2 separate regions of the Homo sapiens genome follow, and region 2 is linked to region 1. Evidence: fine-mapped QTL for protein levels in blood plasma. Region 1 holds a variant in brackets. A gene starts in the other region. All regions are shown on their forward strands. Region 1 holds the start of PLA2G2A (phospholipase A2 group IIA). Region 2 holds the start of CXCL14 (C-X-C motif chemokine ligand 14).

The links. A credible set is the group of variants that fine-mapping cannot tell apart. PIP is the chance, under the fine-mapping model, that this variant and not a neighbour inherited with it causes the effect. Protein levels are from antibody-based Olink assays in UK Biobank. Linkage for the fine-mapping came from a reference panel and not from the study's own genotypes, which makes the PIPs less certain.
Region 2: CXCL14 starts here. The variant in region 1 is the best candidate, but not a certain one, in a credible set for the plasma level of the CXCL14 protein (UK Biobank, PIP 0.61).

The regions. Positions count from the first base shown.
Region 1 is chr1:19,975,341-19,983,340 of GRCh38, forward strand. It overlaps PLA2G2A (phospholipase A2 group IIA), which reads right to left and starts at 4,278. Exons shown (of 5, transcript NM_001395463.1): 1 at 4,240-4,278; 2 at 3,394-3,539; 3 at 3,040-3,184; 4 at 2,675-2,781; 5 at 95-503. The coding sequence starts at 3,433. The coding sequence ends at 361. RefSeq lists an enhancer at 2,922-3,421. The variant G/A (reference allele first, on the strand shown) is at 3,093.
Region 2 is chr5:135,575,005-135,591,076 of GRCh38, forward strand. It overlaps CXCL14 (C-X-C motif chemokine ligand 14), which reads right to left and starts at 3,987. Exons shown (of 4, transcript NM_004887.5): 1 at 3,711-3,987; 2 at 3,430-3,535. The coding sequence starts at 3,774. It also overlaps a transcript of SLC25A48 not described here. RefSeq lists an enhancer at 9,739-10,240.

The sequences.
Region 1 (8,000 bases):
TACACCAGACTCAGAGCCTGTATTTTTAACCCCTACCCCTGTTTGTTCTCATGCTAACAGTGCATAGGGCAATGCATACACACACACATATACATGATTTGCTAATTGCTTTATTCAGAAGAGACCCCCCGGAGTACAGCTTCTTTGGTTAAGCACGGAGTTGAGGTGGAGGAGAGCAGTAGAAGGCTGGAAATCTGCTGGATGTCTCATTCTGGGTGGGTATAGAAGGGCTCCTGCCTGGCCTCTAGGATGGGTGAGGGATGCTTTCTGCATGGCCAAGGAACTTGGTTAGGGTAGGGAGGGAGGGTATGAGAGAGGGAAATTCAGCACTGGGTGGAAGGTTTCCAGGGAAGAGGGGACTCAGCAACGAGGGGTGCTCCCTCTGCAGTGTTTATTGGAATAGTACTGGTACTTTTTATTGTAGGTCGTCTTGTTTCTAGCAAAACAGGTGGCAGCAGCCTTATCACACTCACACAGTTGACTTCTGCAGGAGTCCTGTTTTGCTGAAATCATAAGAAAATAAACACAAGATGGGAGTTTATTAATATTCAGTGGCTTCTTGTGGGAACCCTGGGGTAGAAGACACAGCCCTGTCCTCCAGAAGCTCCTAGTTGGAGACAAACACCTGCGCTCCAGATATTTCTGACCAATGGGGAGACAGAATTCTTGCCCTTGGGATGCTGGCCTCCAGCCTGGTGGAGACACAGCCAGGCACTGGGATACTTTCTCAAAGGCCTTCCTAACAGCCATAATCTCTTCCTCTTGCTAACAGATGTGTCCAGGAGGCAAAGCCCTAGCCTCGGGGGTCTGGGAATAGATTGTGATTGGTGTAAGCCAGGCAGGGTCATCCCTTTTTCCTTTGCAGTGATTGGTCTTTGTGTATCATGTAACCTTGTTCCAACCAATGAGCAACAAGGGGAAGTCTGCTGGGGGCTTCTGGGAACGATCTATTTCCTCCCTCCAAAAAGAGAGATGCCCAAAAGGAAAGCCTCTTCCATAGTATGAGGCCAGGAGGGTGGACCTGCAGCCTGTCTCTTGACATCCCAGGTGTAGACACTGGCCACGTGGCATAGCTGAAGGCCAGGAGAAGGCTGGATTCTTAATGACATGGCTGGAAAGCTGCCCCAAGCCTGGCACTGCACTCTTCCAGAATTCTAGTTATGCGACAGTCACATATCCCCATTATGCAAGCCACTGTCAGCTTGGCATCATGTGGCTTGTGACCTAACGCCTGCTGAAGATACATGCCTCTATGGAGAGGCCATGATGGGAGACATAATTTCTGATCTTAAAGGACTCAGGCCATGGGCAGGAGTCCACGCTTTTTCCAAATCCCACTCATGAGTCAGCTGTCTGGGGACACCAAGCAAAGCCTTCCAGTGCCACCCACCTCTCCTCCCCTTCAGGGCCAAACTTTCTCCAGAATGTTGTCTTTGCCTCCTGTCTTTATTTGCCTTCCCATCAGCCCCCACCTGGTCTAATCTGGCTTTGCCCTCCCGACTCCATGGAAACAGCTTCCCCTGAGTCCCTCATGCGTTTCTGCCTCAACATCCAGGGGAGCCTTGTTGGCCCTTTTCATGGAGGACTCCCTGTTCACTTGGCCCTTGCTAACCATTTCCTTACTGACTCCTTGACCTTCTCGCTCAGTTCCCCTTCTCCCTCTCTGTCCATCCCTTCTCTGTCTCCTTTCTGGGCCTTTAAACAGCAAATGAGTGATCACACCCACCTCTCAGGTCTCTGCTGCTGGCTTCTGAATCTGTGTCCCAGTCCTGAATTCTCCCCTGAGCTGCATTTGTATAGACAGCTGCCTGCTGGACCCCTCCCTGGGTGCTGGAGGCCCCTAAACTCAACATGCTGGAAATAGAACTGCTCCTCCCCACCCTCCACCATGACCTGCTCCCATGGTCTTTATCACAGTTGTGCCATCCATGCAGCCACATATCCATCCAACAACTCCCTCTCCCCATCCCTCCCAACTCAGTCACCAGTTCAGCTGATTCCATCTCAAATGCATCTTGATTTTTTCTCCACCTTTCCCATCCTGACCTCCATTGTTTTATGTCAAGATGTTACTCCCTCTTGCCTGCATGATGGCAATAGCTTTCTCTGCCCCCCTTCCACTTGTCTCCATCGACCCTGTCCCCACAGTGAGTCATCTAAAATGCAAATCTGACCCTGTAGCTCCTTTGCTTAATAGCATCCTATTGCTTTAGGGCAAAACCTAAATACAGCCCGGCCTGGAGGGCCGGATTGACCTAGCTCCTTCCTATGTCTCCAGCATCATGGCTCAGCACTGCTCCTCTTCCTCATGTTTCTGCTGGGCAGTACAGAATGGCTTACAGTGCCCTTTAGTGCCTTTGACCATGCTGTGTCCTCTTCTGGGAATGCTCCCTCCTCTTCCCTGACTCTCTGCACAGCCTTTCAGACTCAGCTTAGGGGTCACCCCTTCCAGGAGCCTTCCTCAAGCCTCAGGCTGTGTTAATGCCTTATCTGTTTGTTTACTTCCCACTGGAGTCTTTACTACATTGGATTTTCACTTTCCTGGCTTCCCACTCAACCGTGAGCTTCCTGAAGCAGGAACTGTGTCCCTCTGTGTCTATCTTTGGTGCCCAGCACAGTCCCCAGCACTGTCTAAACAAATGAGGGCCACTCGATGGTGAGGTAGGACTCTTACCACAGGTGATTCTGCTCCCCGAGTTGCTAAACTTGTAGCTCAGAAATTTGGTGCCACATCCACGTTTCTCCAGACGTTTGTAGCAACAGTCATGAGTGACACAGCAGCTGTGAGGAGACACCCTGTTGGGGCTCTTGTCCCACAGCTCCAGGAGGCCTGGTGCCTGTGGTCTCACCCCCTTGGACCCTGGGCAGAGACCCAGTGACTTTGCAACAGTCTAGAGCAGAAGTTCCAACATGCCGGCTGCTTTTCCAGCCAGGCCATCCTGAGACCTCTGCGCCCATCAGGAACCGGCACTGTCTTTGCAGCTCCCAGCCCTGCCTGGGCCAGAGTCTAGGAGGGTAGGGAGGGATAGGTGGCCTCACCGATCCGTTGCATCCTTGGGGGATCCTCTGCCACCCACGCCACAGTGGCAGCC[G/A]TAGAAGCCATAACTGAGTGCGGCTTCCTTTCCTGTCGTCAACTTGATCATTCTGTGGAAATTCACCAAATTCCCATGGGCCTGCAGTAGGCCTGGAAGGAAATTTGGGAGTTGTCTGGTGATGGGGCATGGGGTTCTGCGCCCTCCCTCTCTGCCCCTCTCTGCTACTCTCCTTCCTCCCAAATGGCTTCTTTTTTCCCCCTGAGAGAGGATCACTGCAATGGGAGAGAAAACTAAGGGACAAGAGTGCTTCCCTTCTGGGGCTGTCCCCCCATGCTCAGAGGTCAGGGTCAGCTCTTACCAAAGATCATGATCACTGCCAACAGTAGGAGGGTCTTCATGGTAAGAGTTCTTGGGTGACAAATGCAGATGGACTGGCCTAGCTCCTCTGCTGGGTGGTCTCAACTTCTGCCCCGGCCGTCGCTCCCCTGCTCCTCCTTGGTGGCTCTGAGACACACAGACATGCTCTCCCATCCAACCTAAGTCCAGGGTGACTTCCTCTGTCACACTCAGAGCACACAAGGAGTGCCCTCCAGCAATGCACACACACACACACACACACACACACAACCACCTCCTGACCCGTTCCCAGCTCTGCAGAATGGTTTCACACACATCAGGCCCTCAGACCTGTGGAGAACCCCATGATACACTAATGAGACCTCCCCTGTACCTCATCAGACTGAGAGTTCTTGGGAGGTTGGAACCAGGTTCCTCCCAACTACCTGGGAGGTTCCTGAGGTCAGAGGATGTGTCCCTCGCTAGACATAGCTTGCATATCCCCACACTGGATTCAAGGCTTGGAGTCTCCAAGGCACCCATGGAGGCTCGGCCTCAGTATTTTCCTCCAGAATGAAAGCATCAACCTCTCTCTTCTAGGCCTTCTAACCCCTTCCACATACACAAGTTCCCAAACACATACATGTTAACACACCTATGCCCACATACACACACTCTCGTACTTACCTGATAGTGCCAACATCCTCTCTTACACTACACTCACATACTCACTCAACACACTCATGCACACACACCCTCTCATACATATCAAATCATGCACATGCATGCACAACACAGCCACTCTCAAAGGCAGCGAATGAGCAGGAATTCTGCTCTTGACAGGACATCAGCTTCGCTGGCTCTTTACCTCTCAGAGGACTCCAGAGTTGTATCCCCAGGCCGTCTTGTTTGTTCTGCACTCCTGCTCCCCTTAAATAGCTGCTCCCTCTGGGAGGTTGGGGGTAGGTGAGGCACAAGGCTGGGGATGGGCGTGGTCAGTTGGTGGACTCAGGATTGGTCGCCCATACCCCTAGGTAATCCCTTTCCTTCCCCTCATCAGCTGGCAGGACAGAGTTGAGGATTGGGAAACCTTACGTGTCAGTAGCTGATGCCAAAACACATTTCAGGCAGTTTTGCAGTCTTTCCATGGAGTAAATTCCCATAACCAGCTCTGGGTGTGATCAACGGTCAGCCACCTCCCTGCAATCGCCTCTAAGGGGGGCAGAGACTGTCTGCTGTTGCAGGCTGTGGACTCATTTGCACACCCAAAGGGACTACCAATTGCTGAGCAAGGATTGCTCCCTTCTGCTCAATGTGGCATTTGGGAATAGAAAAGAGGGCTTTTAGTGGTACTCATTCATTCAGCCGCTCAATCATTCATTCACAGGAAGTATGTCCTGGGCCTCTACCATGTTCCAGCACCTGTGCAGGCCTCACGTGTGCACCCCACAGTCCACCAGGGAGAGAGTTTAATGGGGGTGGATTTCCCTTCCCACTAACTTGGGCCAGGGCCTCAACTTTCTCTTCTTATTCTTCTTTCTTCTTTTCCTCCACCCCTGTCTCATATGAGCTTCTAAACCTGGAAAAAGCCAGAGGCTATCCTTGAAGTTCCCACCAAAGCACTGCCTTCACTTTATTCCCCATCCTCACCTGTTTGGAGACAGGGCAGGTGAATGCTCCCTGGATCTGTTGCTCTTTTTCCTTCAGCCTTCGGGCTGACACTGACTCCAGCTTTAATTCATAAAGTAAATATCTTTTTCATTGCTCTCCAGCACATGCTAAGAATTTAGCTTCCACCGCCTTAAGTAAACACTCTGCGATACCAGTCCTAAAAAAGTCACTGTGGCAGGGGCTGTGGTGCTTGTGAACATTCCATCTGTTCCCTACACTCTAGAGCCCCTTGCAGGGATGGAGACCTAGGGCCCTGCTGCTGACTGGTAAAACATGAGCACTGGTATGAAGGGTCACTTCCAGGTTTCTCCAGCAAGGGGACTATGAGATGCAACTCCCCAGCCCTTCCCTGCCCCACTGGTAGAACCAGAAGATGAAAGCAATCTGGGGTGTAAGAATCATGGCACGGAAGACAGTTGTCCTAGAAAGTCCTGCAGCTCACAGGGGTCTTAGTGTGAGTGAGAAATAGACTTTTGTTGTATTAAGCTGATGATAATTGAGATGGGCAGTTGCTGGAGCATAACCTAATCTATCCCAAGAGCCATCAAACAGCTTTCCTCTCGAGAATACCATTTACCTCCAGTGCTCGACTGTGTAAGGGGTTGGACTGTGGTCCTCCTTCCTGCTCTCAGTTCCTGTGTTGGAGTCCCGGTACCTTAGAATGTGATCTTATTTAAAAATAGGGTCATTGCAGATATAATTAGTTAAGAGGAGATCACTAGGGCAGCTAGGATGGGCCCTAATCCAAGATGACAGATGTCATTACAAAAATGGGAAATTTGGAGACAGGCAGGCACACTGGGAGAAGGCCATACAAAGATGAAGGCAGAGATCAGGGTGAAGCTTCTACAAGCCAAGGAATGGCAAAGATTACCAGAAAACACTGGAAGCTAGGAGAGAGGGATGGAGCAGATTCTCCCTCACAGCCCTCAGAAGGAATCAACCCTGTTGGGCCCTTTGATTTCTGCCACTGGAACTGTTAGACAATAAAATGTCTGTTGTGTAAGCCACAAAGTACCTAATACAAAGCCGAAGCAAACTAACACAACCTCCAGGGATCTCTGTTGGCTTCCTTCACTCTTCTTATTCTGGGTTGCCAGTCCTATAGCAGTTGGCTTTATGGCCACGTCAGGGTTCAGAGGTCTCAACCCCCCGGGGTAGACCACTGCCTTTGTTAAACATTGCACTTTCGGAAACAGTAGTTCCTCCAATAGGCAGAACCGCCTCCCTCTCTGTATATCTGGATAGCCCTGGTCCAGGCTTCAGTTGAAAGAAATACTCCAACGCTCAAGGACTCTGGTGACGTCGGATAGAGCCTCTCCTTTTCCCATCATTTCAGGCTGTTTTACAGGAATTCAAAGTCCATGAATTGGCCTCTTGTTCATCTTCCATCCCAGACCTAATCCAAGCCCTTGGACTCAGTAAGCCAAACAGAAACCTCTACTTTCACAGGGCTTCCGCTTAAGCAGAAAGAGACAGACAATCAGCAAAAGACATACTAGTAAATGACATCATGTGATAGGTGGTGACACTGCAATGGGGAGAGAGGCAGTAGGTGACAGGGCAGGAGCACCGTCATCTCGGACAAACACCACCACTTTAAGTTCCAGCTCCCTTTCTAGCCTCATGCATTTCAAGGAAATCATTTCTCTTCTCACTACAAACAGCCAGAAAGAGTAGACAGTAAAACACAGATAAAACACAGATAAAACACAGATAAGACAGCTCGGGCAGAGAGGGAGGTGTTCGGAAAGTTTCTCTGGCAACTGCCAAACTTCACCCTCATAAAATGGGCCCCAGTAAAACAGTGAGCCTTAATAAGCACATTCTTTTCCCTTCAGGTGCACTAAGATAGGAAAGCTAAAAGCAGACTTGGGGAGTATGCCTGAGGCTGCAGAAAGATGTATGGGAACAGACACAGAAACTCTCCCTTCCAGATAGGCACAACAAAAAGACACAGAAGCAGTCCAAGCCTCTGTTAAACTCTCCCACCCTGAATCCTTAAAAACTCTTAGTCTGTAAGTGTGTGCCTCTGACCTAACTCAGACAGCTGCCCCTCTCTAAAATAAACCTGTCCTTGACTGCCAAGCCAGCTTTCATGTTTCTTTCCTCTTTCCTTAATTCTTACAGTAGGGATGGAGGAGGGGTATCTGGAGTAGGAGGATGGCAATTTTACATAAGATTGGAGTGCTCAAAGAGAGGTGCTTTGAGCTTAGTCAGTGCTCAGAACACTTTCCTTGCATTATTAATAACTAAAAGAATCAGCATATTGACAAGTTTTTTTCTTTTGCCAAATCAATATCTGCATAAGCAGGTTTTTTTTGTTGTTGTTGTTTTCGTTTTTTTTTTTTTTTTGAGACGGAGTCTCGCTTTGTCGCCAGGCTGGAGTGCAGTTGTGAGATCTCGGCTCACTGCAACCTCCGCCTCCCAGGTTCAAGAGATTCTCCTGCCTCAGCCTCCGGAGTAGCTGGGACTACAGGCATGTGCCACCACGCCCAGCTAATTTTTGAATTTTTAGTAGAGGCGGGGTTTCACCATGTGGGCCAGGATGGTCTCGATCTCCTGACCTCATGATCTGCCCACCTGGGACTCCCAAAGTGCTGGGATTACAGGCGTGAGCCACCAAGCCTGGCCAGCAGTTGTTTTTAATTGCAGGATTACGGTTGAAATTTTTCTGCTACTGTTTCCTAATGTTCCTTTGTGAACATACATTAAAAATTTTTTTGAGATAAATTTTTACTTACAGAAAAAAATTGCAAAAGTGGAATTTTTACTTACAGAAAAAATGCCCTTCACCCAGGTTCCCTAATGTTAACATCTTCCATAGCCATTGTACAATCATGGAAACCAGGAAATTCATGTTATTAACTAATCTACAGGCATTATTTTAATTTCACCAGTTTTCCTACTCATGTCTTTTTTCTTCCAGGCTCTCACATTGCATGTAGTTTTCATATC
Region 2 (16,072 bases), not on the chromosome of region 1:
AGGCCTCTTTTGGGGAACAAAGGTCAGAGGACTCCCAGCCTCTCTGAGCCTGGGATCAGGAGGTGGAGAAAGCTAATGCCAGCAAGGTGCACATGCCAAAACCTCTGTCCTTGGATTTGAGGAGCTCATGGCAAGGCTCAGACATGCCCCGCAGACACTCTGATTTCTGTCTCCTCAACCCCAGTTCCCTCTGACCCACCACAGATTGTCCCAGGGCTGGGCATCTCCTGATCCTGAGGCAAAGTCTTGTTGGCCTTGTGGGAGGTCCCAGGTATCTCACCCCTAAGCAGAAGAGTAAGACCTCTCTTCTGCACAGCCTGAAGATCTCAGGCCTCTATCAGCCAATGTCCCAACACCCAGCAGAAGCCTAGCCATGTGGTAGAGAAGCAGGTGTTGTGCAGACTGTAAGGGCCTGGGACTGAATCTCAAATTTGGCTGTGGGACCTTGGGTAACCTCTCTGAATCCAGTTTGGCCATCTGTAAAATGGGTATAATAATAGGACTATCTCACAGGGTTATTGGGATGATTAAAAGATACAATCTTTAGAAAGTACCCAGGACCTGGTAGATGCACAATTAACAGTTACTGTTACTAGTCATTGGTCATGGAAGATGAAGTGGCCAAGGGGAAAGAGTAGCCTTGCTGTGGGGGCTCCAGCCTGGAGGGCGAGGCAAGCCTGCTGCTCAGAACTTCTGAGCACCTCTAGGCCACAGGCATGACAGGAGTTGTGGGGAATAAGAGACCACCTAGGGTATTTGGAAAAGTGCAAGGTGAGAGGTGAGGATGCCACTTCTTGAGGGGTCACAGCCATGCAAGCCATGATGGTAGACTGGGGTGCTGGAATGGGCTTGGAGGGCAAAGGGGGAGACTGGAAGTGAGAGTGGAAAGAGTGAGAAGAGAGGGACAGAGGTCAGCTAGTTCCCCACTGTTAACCAAATGGAAAATGTCATGGCTTATATGGGCTAAGTTCTAGAAGGGACAGGATTCCCATTACTTCAGTCTCCCAGTTGATGGGGAAAGAAAATCGGATCTTGCCACCAGAATGGGGGCATAATGTTCCTAGGCAACCTGTTCTCTTCCCTTCTCCGTGCTCTGGGTTTCTGGGGTCCCTGCTAGGGCCTAAGCTCCTTGGGGCAGGGGCGGGTCTTCCTGCTGATGCCAGGTGATGGTGCCTGCCTTGACTGGACTCCTCTGTGACTCCGGGTCATTCCTCTAGCCTTGAGCACAGGCCAGGCTTCAGAGTGAACTCTGGTTGTCTCTCTCCCCCACTGTGCCCAGTCACCCTGCAGGAATTTAGCAAATGCTTTTCTCTTTCTGCCTACAAGGCTGCTTTAGCATTCTGAAGGAAAGGACGTGGTAATGCCTGATAAAAACCCTTTCTCAGTTAGGTCAGTGTGCAGGCTGTGCATCCCAAATCCTGAAGGTCAGGGAGAGCAGGAAGGGAGAGCAGGAAGGGTCACTCAGCCCTCTCACTACAGTGCTCAAATGCCACGTCATAATACTGGGATTATGAAAATCGGTTGTGGAGTGCAGACATAGGGATTTGTGACTCCAGCAACTATCAGAAATTCTGAGTCCTGTGACCCTCTCCTCCACAGTTCTGGCGGTGGGGGTAAGGGTTTTGGTGAGAGCTCCATGGACCTATGACACAAATTGCTCTTTCTAGAATTCGGACTCTCCTGGATCCTTCTGGGTGCAAGGACTCCCACTTGCAAAGCGGACCTCTCCCCCCGCCCCTACTCCTGCCCCCACCCCCAGCCTCAGCAGAGATTTCTGGGTGACTCAGGGTAAGCTGGAAAATTTGCTTTTGTTCAGCCTTTGTGGCTGAAAACCTGCTTTGCAAAAGTGCTGGCCCCTCATCTGATTTGGAGAGTTTTAGGATTGTGGAGGGGGAGAGGAGCCCCCAGCCCTCAGGGATGGAGTGGGAGGCCCTAGGGGGTGGGTTAGAGGTTTAGTAGAGGGTGATTGGATTGTGTGCTGATCTCCTGAGGCCCCTGCACGTTTCTACAAGGCTCCGTAAAGCCTTTCTCACACTTGCCTAGCTATAGTTTTTCTCTATATGTGGAAAAGTTTAGCCAGGAAAAGAGCAAGCCTATTTACTGAGGGCTCTGTCCTTTTTAGGTATCACTGCATCCTTTACCCTGCTTTCTTCCCCTGCAAGGTCTCAGAAACTTGTTTGGTTAATAGAGTGGTTTTCAGCTCTTAGACGAGTGAGATTTAACTTGGAATTCCCCTGTCATTCTTAGCCCCCAAACTGGAAGCCCTGAGGAGCTTGGAGCTCCTTTCCCAGCTCATTTGACACTTGGCCCCCACCCAAAAGGATTTTTGGGTATTTTCTTTGAATTTGGTCTGCAAGGCAAGGGGTAGGGACAAGCAAGTTAATTTAGGTGTCTGTGAAGGAAGGCAGTGGGGTCAGCTCAGTTCCAGTGGATTTCTGAATTCCCCTAATTTCAGCCTGACAGTGTAGCCCCTAGACGGGGATGGGGGGTGCTGGGTAGGGGTGTGCACTGCTTTCGCAGACACTGTGAAGGCCTTTGCGCCGGTGGGGGCCAGCTGGTGGAGGGCACTTGCCCAGACTGAGAATAAAGTGCGTCCTGTTTCTGGGGGAGGGGAAGAGGGGCCAATGGTCTGTGGCAAATATTTGGTAGCCGCTTTGCCAAGGGCTCCCTTCCTGGCCAAGAGCATATTGATGAGGAGGCAGCGGTGCTGGCCTCAAGTGGTTAATTGGGAAGGCGGAGGAGCAAGAAACTAAGTGTTCTCTCACTCTGCCCCAGTTTTTCCAACATTCCCCACATCCCCACCAAGCAGGGCTCCAGCCATGTGGCACATTAACCCCAGCAGAGCACTTTCTGCAGTACTGCTCCGTATTGGGGACCCACAAGGAGTACAGTCGGTGAGGGAAGCTCGTGGAGCGTTCTCAAAATAAAATCTCTAGGAGCCAAAAACTTGCGGTCCACTTGTCTCTGACTGGAACAAGGCTCTGAAGGAGACTCAGGATTTAAGATAGTGTTTGCATTAGTCCTCTATCCAGTGACAGGAAGGCAGCACGCCTCACAGTTTGGGTGTGAGTGTGTTTTAAGTGATTTCAGTCTAGGTTTTCTGAGTTGGCACAAGGGAACCCTTTAACCCTTGATGGCCCTAGCAGAGTGGGTGGCCCATGGTACAAATAGGGAGACTGCTCATTTGAATCCTAGCAAGGGTGAACTTGGAGGCGCTGTTCCGGAGCGGGACAGTGACCCCCCTTCCCGACTGTCTTCCAGAGTGTCTCGCCAGCGTCCTAAGGACTCTCTGGGCAATTACAAAGGCTTTTCCAGGGCCTTGACAAAGTCGGAGAGAAATGTTTGTTAGCCCGACCCAGGCCCAGGCTGTGCCCTGGCATTGGGTTGACAGCAGTGCGCACCCCCTCAAGGTGAGGAGCGAGAACTCACATAACCATCTTCTCCTCGCAGTGCGGGTACTTTGGCTTCATTTCCAGCTTCTTCACGTCGCTGTAGCGGATCTTGGGTCCCTTCCGGGAGCACTTGCATTTGGACCCTGCGAGCGAGCGCGGGGCAACGGCTTAGTTGCTAGGCGGTCTCCTGCCCCTCGACCACCTTGGTGCCCACCCAGACCACCCCCCGCGGGATCCCAGGATGCCTAGAAATTGGCGCTTGGGTTCCCCAGGACAGGACAAGACGAGACGGCGACAAGGGGAGCTCCCCGCACTCACCGTCCACACGCGCGGTGTACAGCGCCAGCAGCAGCAGGAGCAGCGCGGCCGCCAGGAGCCTCATGCTGACCGGAGGGGCGCGGCGTGGGAGCAGGGACATGGGGAGGGCGCTGGCCCGTCGGAGCGGCGGCCCGGAGACGCCACCCAGCTCTGCTCGGCTTTCTCTGCCCGGGGCGCGCCTTCCGGCTCTGCTGGCTCCGGCTGCGCCGTCGGTGGATGCCCAGGGCTGTCTGTGGCCGTGCGCTGCGCTCTGCGCTTGTCTCCGCGCTCTCTCCACAGCCTCCCTCCGCCCGCCCTGGCCTCTTTTAAATCCGCTCCTGCCCTCGCAGCGAGCGAGCTCATTAATATGCAGAACCACTCGGTGACTCACTGAGATTTCTCAATGTGGTGAGGGGAGGAGACCTTCCCAGCCCGCCCGTCGCCCGCCCCGGGAAAGGACCCGCTATCGCAGCGGCGCACACCCGGAGCCACGCGCGCACACGCACACACACATCCGCTACCCTCTCGCTCACACAACACGCCGCCTTCGCACACTTGCACACCCATACCACAGCGCGCACACATTTCCAGCGTCCCGCTCTGCCTTTGGGGAGCCCAGACGGTGGAGAGGCTGCTGAAGGGCACTGCTTTTCTGAATCGTGTGGTTCTCTCTCTGGCCCGGCAGGCCAGCTTTTCCGAGCCGGCGGGAGACCCAGGCCCAGGGCTCAGATCCTCAAAGACCTGAAAGGGTTTTGGAGCAGGTGCCAAGTGTGAGTGCCTGCAGGCCTGACCCCCAAGGGCCCCTGCTGGGCCAGAACACAAGGCCAGTTCTGGACAGGGGCTTGTCATAGACTGTCCAGCAGCAAAGTCATTGACTGTGATCACTGGAACTGACTCAAAGAGGGTATGTGTGTGTATGCGGGGGTGGGGACGGGTATTGGGGAGGAGTTTTGGTGACTCCCAAAGGAAAGCTCCTTAAAGTGGGTCAGTGGCCTGGTGGCTGTGTGAGTGTCTGGGTGGTGGGGAGAACCAGGAGGAGTCCTCACTCTCACACTACTCTCCAAAGCCAGGTAGAGAGCCCTAGTGGAGAGCGATGACAGTGGTAACCATCTGGATGAAGGCCTTCCCATGTTCTAGACATTGTGCCAGAATGCGAGGTATAGTGGTGTGAGCCCAGCCATAGTGGCAGAAATTCCCTCCTCACTACTTTCCAGCACAAGTGACTTTACCGCTCTCAGCTTTTGTTTCATCATCTGTAAAGTGCAGATCATCACAGTGTTTCTGATAGGGTGGCTGTGAGAACTATAGAAATCATACATGTTGTCAGTACCCAGGAAATGTTACTTATTGGCACCATCGTTTTATGTCTAATTTATCTATTACTTTGATTCTTACCAATTGGTACTTTTCTTCCAAGTTGGTACTTTTAATTTCTTTATTTGACAGGTGTGGAAACATGCTCTGAGAGAAGAAATAACTTGTCCAAGGTCACAGAGCTAGGAAGCAGGTGACTAGGCCAGGAGGGTCCTCAGTATATACGGCTGCAGAACTGGGACTCCTGTCCCTGGACCACTCTGTTGCTTTGAGGCCTGTCTGCCCTTCACTTCTTGCTGCCTTGAGAGACCCAGAGACAGGAGGTGGATCATCTCAAGCTCTTGGAGTCCCTGGGCTTGGCTGTCAGGAGAGAGCTCACCCAGCTCTATGCCATCAGCCTGGCAGTTCCCTGGAGGCAAAAATGCCCAGAGGGCTTCTGGATGATGGGGACAGTCTGCTGAAGGGTGCAATGGGAAGAATCTGTGTCGTCTCTTCCCAACTGGAGAGCCCTTGCTGCTTCAAGAAGAAGCTGAGCCATGAAAAGCAAGCAGCGCCTATGCGTGCTGTTGTGCCTATACCTAAAGCAAAGCCAATAGCTGGACATTTGCATTTATGCATGAGATGAGTATGAGGGAGTGACTTTTGGCATTTATGTTAGTTTTTAACTCTAAAAATAATTTTTTAAAATATAGAAACAACACGTTTGCCCAGAAAAATCAGAAAACCCAAGCAGAAGAAAACTAACATTTTCACGCAAGTAAAATCTTGGGTGAAATCTTCCCAAAGCATCCTCTTTTTGCTTTGTGTGCACATGTACACATGGGATCAGGCTGCATGTAGTCTTTAATAACCTGCTTGCTATACCTATTAGCATATTGTGAACATCGCTCCATGTGGCTAGCCTTGCTACAACAATAGCTCCCTTAATGGTTTCATCTGAGGCCGGGTAGTATAATGGCTAAGAGGCTGGTGTCTGGAGTCAAATTGCCTGAGTATGCATCCTAGGGACTAGCTGTGTGACTTTGGGCAAATACCTTAACTCTATTTGGTATTGGTTTCCTCATCTGTGAGATGGAGATGATAATAATATGTACAGCATAGGCAGAATTAAATGAGATAGTGCATGTAATGCTTTTAATGTGGTCCCCAACACAGAGTAAGTGTTTGATATGTGCTGACCATTGCGGTTATCATGATTTTAGCTGCAGAGTATTCCGTCATACAGATGTACCAGAATTAATTTGACTACTCCTTGCTGGACATTTGGATTGTTTTCAACCTTACCCTCTTACAACCAATGCTGTTTGACAAATATTCTTGTAGCTCCATTTTGGGGTAGGTTTTAATACATTGGATCAGCCCTCAGAAATAGAATCATGGGGCCATGGCACATGCCCATTTTAAGACTTTTCATAGAAATTGCCAATTGCTTTCCAAAAAAATATATTTTATGCTGCAAAGGAATTTCTTAAATACCAAGCTTTCCTAGAGCATGTAAAGTATTATTTTTTATTAACGATTTTATTTCTAACATGTTTGTTTCAAGAATATGTTGATTGATTAACTGGGATCTAACAACACCAGCGATCGTGGGCACTGAGTTTTCACAGGAAAAAGTAGTTGGCTCTAGAAATATGGACCAACGTTCCCCAGCTTCTTGGGCTGGACCAGAGGTCAGACGTCCCAGTGTTTTGTCCTCAGTTACACTCCTCAGTCTGTGTATGCAGATCTCTGGTTTGCAGAAGGCAGCCACTGTGCAAGCAGAGCTGAGCCCTTGTTTGTGTGAGTTCTTCTGGAGCCATGGTACAGGAGAGCATGAGGCCCCTGCTGCCAGCAGGTCTGTGGGGGATGCTGCCTAACTGGGTGAGGGAGGGGGCTTGGCCCCTGACACACCTTCAGGGCACAGACTGTCTAGTGAGCCCAAGCCGAGGGCCTCTGAGCAGGTGGGCATGTGTGAGGCCGTTCTTTGTACAGTGGCACTGTCTGCTTCAAGGAGGTCCCTGGGGTACAGTGAAGGACAGCACACATGCCTTGCCTGTGTGTGTGTATGCATGTGTGCAGATGTCAACACATTCATGGTCATACTGGATTCTACAGAAGAGGTAGACGTGAAGTGTGGGGGCACAGAGGAGGGAGGAAGTGGAAACAGGACATCACTCCTTGAGGGAGTGGAAATTTTGCTGAGACCCCAGGGATTTGCTTATTTCTTCTCTTTACATTTATTGAGCACCCACTGTGTCCCAGGCGTTGTACGAGGTGCTGGGGGTTTGAGGTGAGCCAAGGCAGCTGTGTGCCTGTCCCCAAGCAGCTCAGAGTCTAGTGGGGAAGGCAGACATTAGCTATAAACCACAGAGATCAGTGTGAAACTCCTGCAGAGGTCAGTGTCCTGGAGGGTGGTTGGTGCTAGGAGACTCATCAGGGGATCTGACAGGGTGACGAGGTGGGGACAAATTCCTGGAGGAAAGGGCCATTGAGTTAGATATGAAGGATGGAAAGGAATTAACCAGTGACCACAGGAGGGAGGCCACTCCTGGCCCTTCATGGTCCCTGCTGCTCACACAGTGATCTCCTGGGGGAAGTCCCTGCTCTGAACCCTTTACTGGCTCCCGATCTCATGCAGAGTGGAAGCCAAGTCCCCAGCAGTGCGCACCCAATCATGACCAGCACCTGCCATGCTCCCCACAGGCTGTGCTCCAGATACTCTGCCTTGTCTTACCTTCAAACATCCAAGCCTGTTCCCACCTCAGGGTCTTTGTGCTCACTGGCCCCTCCACCTGCAGTGCTCCTCCCCAGGGGCTGACAGGCAACCCTCTTCTCCTCAGTGAGCCTGGGCTCCAATATTCACCATCCAGTTCTAATCCCACGAGCATACCCCCAACAACAGTCCCTCTCTGTGTTGCCACCGATTTTAGTTTATTCATTGTATGTGCAGCAACCTCAAATTGTACATTTTCATATTTATTTGGGGGTGCATTGTGGATGATCTGTCTGTGTCTGTGGGTGTCTGTCTTGCTCATCCTCAGTATCTACAACAGTGATTGGCATGTAGCAGGGGTTCACTCCCTATCTGTGGAGTAAATAAAAACATGTTTCAGGCAACAGCTCAGCATGTGAGAGTACTGCTGAATCCAGGCTGCACAGGCTACAAGGTTGCATGTGAGAAAGTGTGTGTGCGTGTGTGTGTGTGTGTGTTTGCGTGTGTGTAGGGGTGGCCATGGGGAGTCCATATTCCCAGGGAAGCCAGTTCATCCTCAGGGCATTTGTTTTAGAGATGAAGTCTCTGGGAAGAGGAGGTGGTGATAACAGGAGTGTGACTTTCCAGGAAATCCCACAGGTGTCTGGGCACTACCTCCTTGGTCTGCTTAGAAAGGGGTCTTGACTGGTCAAGGCTGGTTTTCTGCCCTGGGAGCTGGGATCCAGGGCAATTCCTTCCCCCATTCTTTTAGTTCTTTTCGTGACTGACCTTCTTTTCAGAAGAGGAGTCCTTTTTACTTCCCTGGCAGGACAGGAATCCTAGAATTCAGCACTGGTAGAGGCTGAGGCCACAACTGGCCTTCATTGTACATATGAGGAAACTGAGGCCCAGCAATGGGGTTGACTGCATACAAGATCTCCCTGTGCATTAATGTTAGCCAGCCTCCTGTCTCTGTGTCCTGTACCTAGCTACTTAGGCCAGAGCAAGATCCTGGGCTCCAGTAACCTGTCTGGCCCCATCACCACTCATGACATGGTGGGTCACCCCAAAATACCTGCTTCCATTGTGTTGTGTGGCTGCTGGCTCTGAATCCAAGCCTGGCGGGTGCCTCTCCCTCTCCAGCTCCTCCCTCTGTCTGTTCACCTGCAGCCTGTGGAGTCTGGGCAGCCAGCTGCCTCCTCTGTGCAGCTTTCTTTCAGCTACAGCCCTGCATGCTGACCCCTTCCCTGGCCATGCTCTGGGGTGAAGGAAGTTGAAGGACCAAGGTTCCCAAGAACAACCTCTGGTTTTGTTCTTCACACTGCAAATATTTAGAGATCCTGAGTAACTTAAGCCCAGAGAAAATGATGTGGGGGACAGCCAGGCAGTATTGAATTAGGCTTAAAGCAGCCCCGAGGCAGAGTGTATGTAGGGGGGCTCTGTTACTCAGATGGGTCACAGGGGGCACTGCAAGATTCCCCTAAACATGGGAGAAAATGCTTGCAGCAAATATGACAAACCAACAAGTAGCATTTATTCCACCATCTATTCATCCAACAACACTCCCTTACAGGCAAGCATCTTTATTATATTAAGAACACATGCAAAGATATTTCCGAAGAGGGCCCTAACATATAAATGAGCAAAGGACATCAAAGGACAATTCAGGAGAAAAAGAAAGGCAATTAACCAATTCATCAAAGAACATGCATCCTCTTTGGCAATGAAGGAAAAGCACAGCAGTGCTGCAGGATCACGGCATTTTGGTTTTGGTCCCACTCAATGAGGAAATGTTTATTTTAAATAGCAACATCCAAAGCTGATAATGGTAAAGTGAGGAAGCATCACTTAAGCATCACTCATGGGACTATCAATTGGTACAAAATTTGGGGAAGTTATATTTATAGTATGGTATCCAGACTGTTTGAAGTAAACCATTTCATCTTATTAACCACTTCAGAAATCTGTTTAAAATTCTCATAATGGAGAAATACCACATGCAAAGCTAGTCCTTGTTAAAAATAAAGATTTAAACTAAATGCCCAACAATGGGGGATTAAGAAAACAATGAAAGCTCTAAATTTGTGGAGTAAATGCTTATGCAGTAAGTAGAAAAAACACAAGGTTGTGTAAACACTGTGATTATAAGTATGCAAAACAGTAACCTCTGTACAAAGGATGGCAAGACAGAGTTACAAACGTCATTCTCTTTGAGTGGCGAAATGTTGGGCATTGTTGTTGTAAAGCTTCTCTCCTTGCTTTCCAGTTTTTCAGAATGTTCTTGTTATAACAGCAACTCAGGAGCAGTTGATTCAGCGAGGGCTTGGGCAGCCTTCAGCCTCACTGAGCAGACGCTGGCGATGGGCGATGAGCACCTGTGCTGTGCAGGTGGCACTGCAGAGAGGCAGGTAGAGTTGTTGGTGGCTTGGGTGAGTCCCATGGTGAGGGTCTAGGCCCATCTTTAGAGCTGTCCCCCACTGCTTGGCACAGGGGAACAAGCAGCCCCTCCATCCGGCCTCACTTGTCCTCATTCTGCTCTGCCCCACCTCCTGCCTCTCTCACCAGCCCTGTTCCATGTTTGCAGCAGAGTCCTAGGCCTCTGTGCAGGCACCGCCAAGTCCTGTCTCCTTGGCTAGGCTGTTTGCTTTCGTTTGCCTTCCTGAAACTGCGAAGATGTCATTTTACAGGGAAGCCCTCCTTGACTGCACACATCTGCCTGACTCCCGTCCTAGCCCCAGGGTAGGAGAGGCACCTGCTGTCCGCGTGGCTCGTAGACCTTGTTGTCTCCAGTGCCACTCCTCACACTTGTAAAGGCTCCTATGAGGTCTTCTTTCAGGTCCATGATCCTCTGAGGTTGCTCTGTGTCTTTCTTATTAATTCTAGTTCCCCAGCTTGAGCACAGGGCCGGGCACACAGTAGGTGCTCAATGAAGAAATGATTGAATGCAGGATGAACGAATGCAGGATGAATGAATTAATGTGGATCACAGTTTATCACAGTCTAGTGTGTTACAGAGTCAGACTTCCTGGTCTAGAGTACTAGTCTATCACTCTGTGCTTCTGCTTCCTCATCTGTAAAAAGAAGATAATAATAATAATAATAATAAATAATCAGGCTGTGATAAGGATTAAATGAGCTGATATAGAACAAACATGTTGCACAGTATCTTGTCACATAGTAAGTGTTCCATAAATGTTCATTCTTGTTTTATGATTATTAAATCTCGTAGACTCACTCCCCTTATCTGTGGGTTGGCTTGGCTAATTTCTTTTGCTTTATATTTATGAAATGCTTATAGAATGCTTACTATGTCTCAAGGACTGTTCTAAGTGCTATACAAATATTAATTTATTTAATTTTCATAACCACACAAAGTAGGTTATCCCCATTTTACAGATGAGGAAACTGAGGAGAAGGTTAAGTATGTTGCCCAAAATAACTACCAAGTGGCAGAGCTGAGATTCAAACCCAAGCAATCTGACTCTGGAGTCCTGCTCTGCACGGCCATACGCTGCCTCCCAGGAGGAGGGTGGGGGGACGCTCCCTACCTTTTGCCCAGGTGTCACCCACTACCTTCCTGTCTGCATGCTGCTGCCACCTGGTCCTCAGTTCTTCTCCCTGGAGGGCATCCCAGAGTTCTCAACCAGCTAGGATTGTCAACTTTAACAAACAAAAAATACAAAATGCCCATGCAATATTTACGGCATACTTATACTCAAAATTATTCATTGTTTATACTGAAATTCAAATTTAACTTGTGGCCTGTATTTTAACTGGCAACCCTACATCCAGTACCAGAGGGTGGTAATGTGGTGGTCCAAGGAGTCTTCTGCAGTGATCTCAGACACAGACATGGAGCCTTCTGGGTCTGCCATGGGCGGAATGTGGGGAGAGAAAGGCTAGGCACACTGCTAAGCTCTCATAGGGCACAGTGGGCATTCGTGCTCTGATAGGGAAGCAGGCATTGAGGAGGATGGTTCAGGCAGAGACAACAGCTTAAACAACTGCTATGGGATGGGGAAGGTCAAGGAAACTGTAGGATGCTAACGGAGCCCTGTGTGTGTAGGGCAGGGATCTGGGCAGGGGAGGGAAGGGTGATTAGGCTGAATATGTAGATCAGCACCAAATTGTGCAGGGTCCTGGGCAGCTGAGGAGTTTGGGCTTCATCACCTGGATTATAAGAAGCCATTGGAGAATTTCAAGCAGGGTTGTGTGATTCGGTTTTGCCTTATGAGAAGATCTGTCTGGCTGCTGGACGAAAGAAGGATGGCAGAGAGGGAGATGGGAGGCAAGAGAAACCTTGGTTCAGGGAAGTTCTTGCCCAAAGGTCAGGGCATTGTATTTTTTTTGTTTTGTTTTGTTTTTTTGAGACAGGGTCTTGTTCTGTCACTCAGGTTGGAGTGCAGTGGTGTGATCTCAGCTCATTGCAACCTCTGCCTCCCAGGCGCAAGTGATCCTCCCACCTCAGCCTCCCAAGCAGCTGGGACTACAGGCACATGCCACTACCCTTGGCTAGTTTTTAAATTTTCTTGTAGAGACGGGGATCTCACTATGTTGCCCTGGCGTGTCTTGAATTTCTGAGCTCAAGCAATCTGCCCATCTAAGCTTCCCAAAATTCTGGAACTACAGGTGTGAGCCACCATGCCCTGTCTTTCATAAAAGTTTTTGTCTTCTTATTCCTGAAATTCTTTGCCTTCTGAAAAAATGTAATGCACAGATGGAAAAGAAAAAATGTTCTCAGTCTCGTTTGCTGTCAAGAGGGAGTGTTTGTGATATTGGTGTTTTTATTTTTACCAATTCTGTCAGTGTGGTCTCTAGCACAGCAGAAGGGAGGAAGTGATTGGGTCTGGGGTGAGAAGATTGTGACTAATTTGCTTTTAATCAGTCTCTGGCAGCTGATGGAGGAGAACAGGGTCCAAGGTGTTCCTCAGAGGATTTACCTGCCAGGTAAATACTAGCCTTCATGAATCTTCTATGAAGAAAACTTTTCAAGCAACCATCTGAGACATGTTGCAATTTTCTTTCTTAGCAACTAGTCATTGCCTCTGAACATGATCAGGTTCTTAACGGTGAGCGATTTAAGGCCATAAAAGAATTGTCATAAACAGCTCCCCAGAGCCAAGAGTGCGGCCCAGATTTTAAGCACATAATGGAATCATATCAAAAGCAAGGAGGGGCAGCAGGAACCATAAATCCTGGAAGTGCAAAATCTGTCCATTGTGAAACTTGTGCTGAAGGGAAACCAGATGTGGATGCTAGAGAGAGAGGGCAGGAGGGAAAGTGTGGTATGGGGACTCTGAGAACGGGCCCCTGTGTAAGGCTAGATGTCCTGCTGTGTGTTGGCGGAGGCCCGAATTCAAGAGGCTCAGAACCACGGAAAGCAGGGCGGGTTTGCTCCTGGTGTCGTGGCTGACGGTCCAGTGTCCAAGGAAGAAGGCAGAGGCCGGAGAATTAATGTTCTTGTAGCTACTGTTTCAGCTGGACTAACAGAAGTATTGTACAAGTTTTTCCTGAGTTTTTGTCTTTGAAGATGAAACATTTGGGGGCAGTTCTTTAAACATGTATTTGAGCTATCACAAAGAGACTAAATTTGTTTATCCTGTGGAGGAAAAAAAGCCACTAACACATGTGGAAATCCATTTGGATTGGGATGAAAAACATGATTATCCAAGTTGCCATCCTTGGCCTGAAATGGGGGGTTTATTTTATTCTGGTAAGCAAAATCCTCTATAAACACCAAGTTGAGCCCTTGCTGAGTGCCTGCTCTGTGCCGGGGTTGCAGGGCTGCGGGGGCTGCGGGCCAGAGGCTCGGCAGGATGTCTGCAGGCCAGAGAGGCCCTTGCCAGCAGGCTGAGAGAATACTTCAAATGAGTTACGGATGCGAGGATTCCAGATGGGGGGCTGTAAGGCAGTCCCATCCAGGTTGGGGATTGGGAATGCTTTCATGAAGCAGGTAGTGGAAATAGACCTTGAAGGATGAGGAAGACTGCTCAGGTAGAGAGGGGTGAGTGAAGGTGACCCGCAGGGACAGGGCAGCTGAGGTCCAGCCTGAGGTCAGAACACATGTGATGAGTCAGGGACTGGCTGGTTTGATGGGAGGTAGAGTATACACAGGGAGTGTGGGCAGCAAGAGGGTATTGCGGAGAGCCTTGAATGCTGCATCAGGAACTCATAATTAATTTGACTGGAAAATTGGATTTGGTGCCTAGGTCTGTTTGAGGCCATTTCAACTCCCATTTCACAAACAAAAAAACAAACAAACAAGCAAAAATAAGCAAAGAACCAAACAAATGATACCATTCTGAAGACAGTACAGCATCACTGAAGAGAAAAAGGGGCACATGGAACTTTCCATCCTTCCCAGAACCAGTCCAGCCTGTGCCCGTGCACAGAAACTTTCACATAATGACAGTCACACTGCATAATCCTGTGTACGCATCTTTCTTTGGGGCACACTGTTTCATAAACGCTGTATAATCCCCACTTTAAATGCCTAGGGAGGTTTAAAAGGTCCTGGGGTGAAATACAGATTTTATGAAATGTGAACAACTTCCAGCTAAATGATTTTAAATTTGGGGTTCTCAAAGAGTGTCTCTAGTTTATACTTGCAGTGGCTTGGGAAGCCCTTAGACCTTGGCTTCCCCATTTCCCTCAACCACATGCTCCCATAGTGCGACGAAAAGGGAACTGTGTCATGGTTGTCACAGTCTGCCTGGTCCCTGATAGGTGGCTGGGCTGACACCAGGCACTGGGCTCAGTCCTGTAGGGGCTCCAGGTTAATTTTCCAAGTCAATATGCTGAAGGGCCAAGGCCCTGAAATATCAGCTTGTCAAAGTTAGTTTCTAGTAACTATTGGTAACATTTACGGGCCTCTGTGTCTTGCTGAGTGTGCCCATTTTCAGTGTATTTGGTGGTTGATGCATTCATTCATACTTTGAATTTGGGATGTCCCATGTAGTATTGCAAAAAGGGAAGATTTTAAAGATGCATTTTAATTAATTAATTAATGTATTCATTTATTTATTTATTTTGAGGCGGAGTCTCACTCTGTCTCCCAGGCTGGAGTGCAGTGGCACGATCTTGGCTCACTGCAACCTCTGCCTCCTGGGTTCAAGCGATTCTCCTGCTTCAGCCTCCCGAGTAGCTGGGACTATAGGTGCCCACCACCATACCCAGGTAATTTTTTGTATTTTTAGTAGAAACAGGGTTTCACCAAGTTGCCCAATTGGGTCTTGAACACCTGACCTCAGGTGATCCACCCACCTCAGCCTCCCAAAGTGCTGGGATTACAGGCATAAGCCACAGTGCCTGAAGATGCATTTTAAATCCAGTCTATTGGTTTTCATTATGAGGTAAATTCCCAGATTTGCTTTTTTGTTTTTTTTGGAGGCAGAGAAAAGCACCACATTTCTGGTGGTGCCTGGGAATAGCGATTTGGGAAGTTCTTGTTCAGGGCTCCCTGTACCTATCCCATATCCATGGCAAGATAAAACCCTTTTAAGGATAGGGCTTTCCTGGTGCATATAGGGCCCCCAACATGGGAAGTCCATGTGAACTGACTCCCAGGGAACTGGACCTCCCTCCTCTCCTTCACCCCATCAATGTGCAGAGGAACACCCTCTGAGCAAAGCCTGCCTGGGTTGCAGTTGGAGAACCCTGAAGAGCTGGAGGAGGGCCTTTCCCACACCATCCCTGCCCATGGGCCCCCGGCCCCAGCCAGCCTGCAGGGCCTGAGAGCTCTGCATGGTCCCTGAGTGCCTTTGCTCTGTGTCTGGGCCTGTAAAACTGCTTGGAGCCCCCAAGAATGCACCACACTCCTCTTGCAAAATCACCCTTTATTTGTGTGGGTTTTTTTTTCCTTTTTTAAAATGAAGGCACCTGGTTCCCTTAAGCTCGGGGCTTCTCAGAGGGCTGGGGGCTGAGCTAGTGGAGGAGAACAGAGACCTGCTGGGGGACCGTAAAGCTTGAACGTTTCCAGGGCTGCTGCTGGCCCACCCCCACCCCAACACCTATGCTGGGGGTTACGCTGTTCCCTGTCCTGCAAAGAGGGTGGGAGGCTTTGGAGAAAAGACAATAGGCTGGCTTTGTGAGACCTGAGATCCAGACACGCCATGGCTCTCAGGCAGGGCAGCCCAAAGAGGGCATTGGCTGCAGGCCTACCGTGTGCTTTACAGACAACATCTCTTTGAGTTCTCAACCCATCCCAATGTTCGGCACATGCCCATTGGCGATGAGAATAAATGACTTTTTGGAAGTCACCCAGCCTGTGGGCAGAGCTGGCTGTGAACTCTCAACCCTCCTGACTCTAAGGCTCATGTGCCACCACAGCATCATCCTGCCTCTCAGTGCTGCCTGGCACTCAGGTAGGAGCCTCCAGGGTATCTGGGTGACCAGA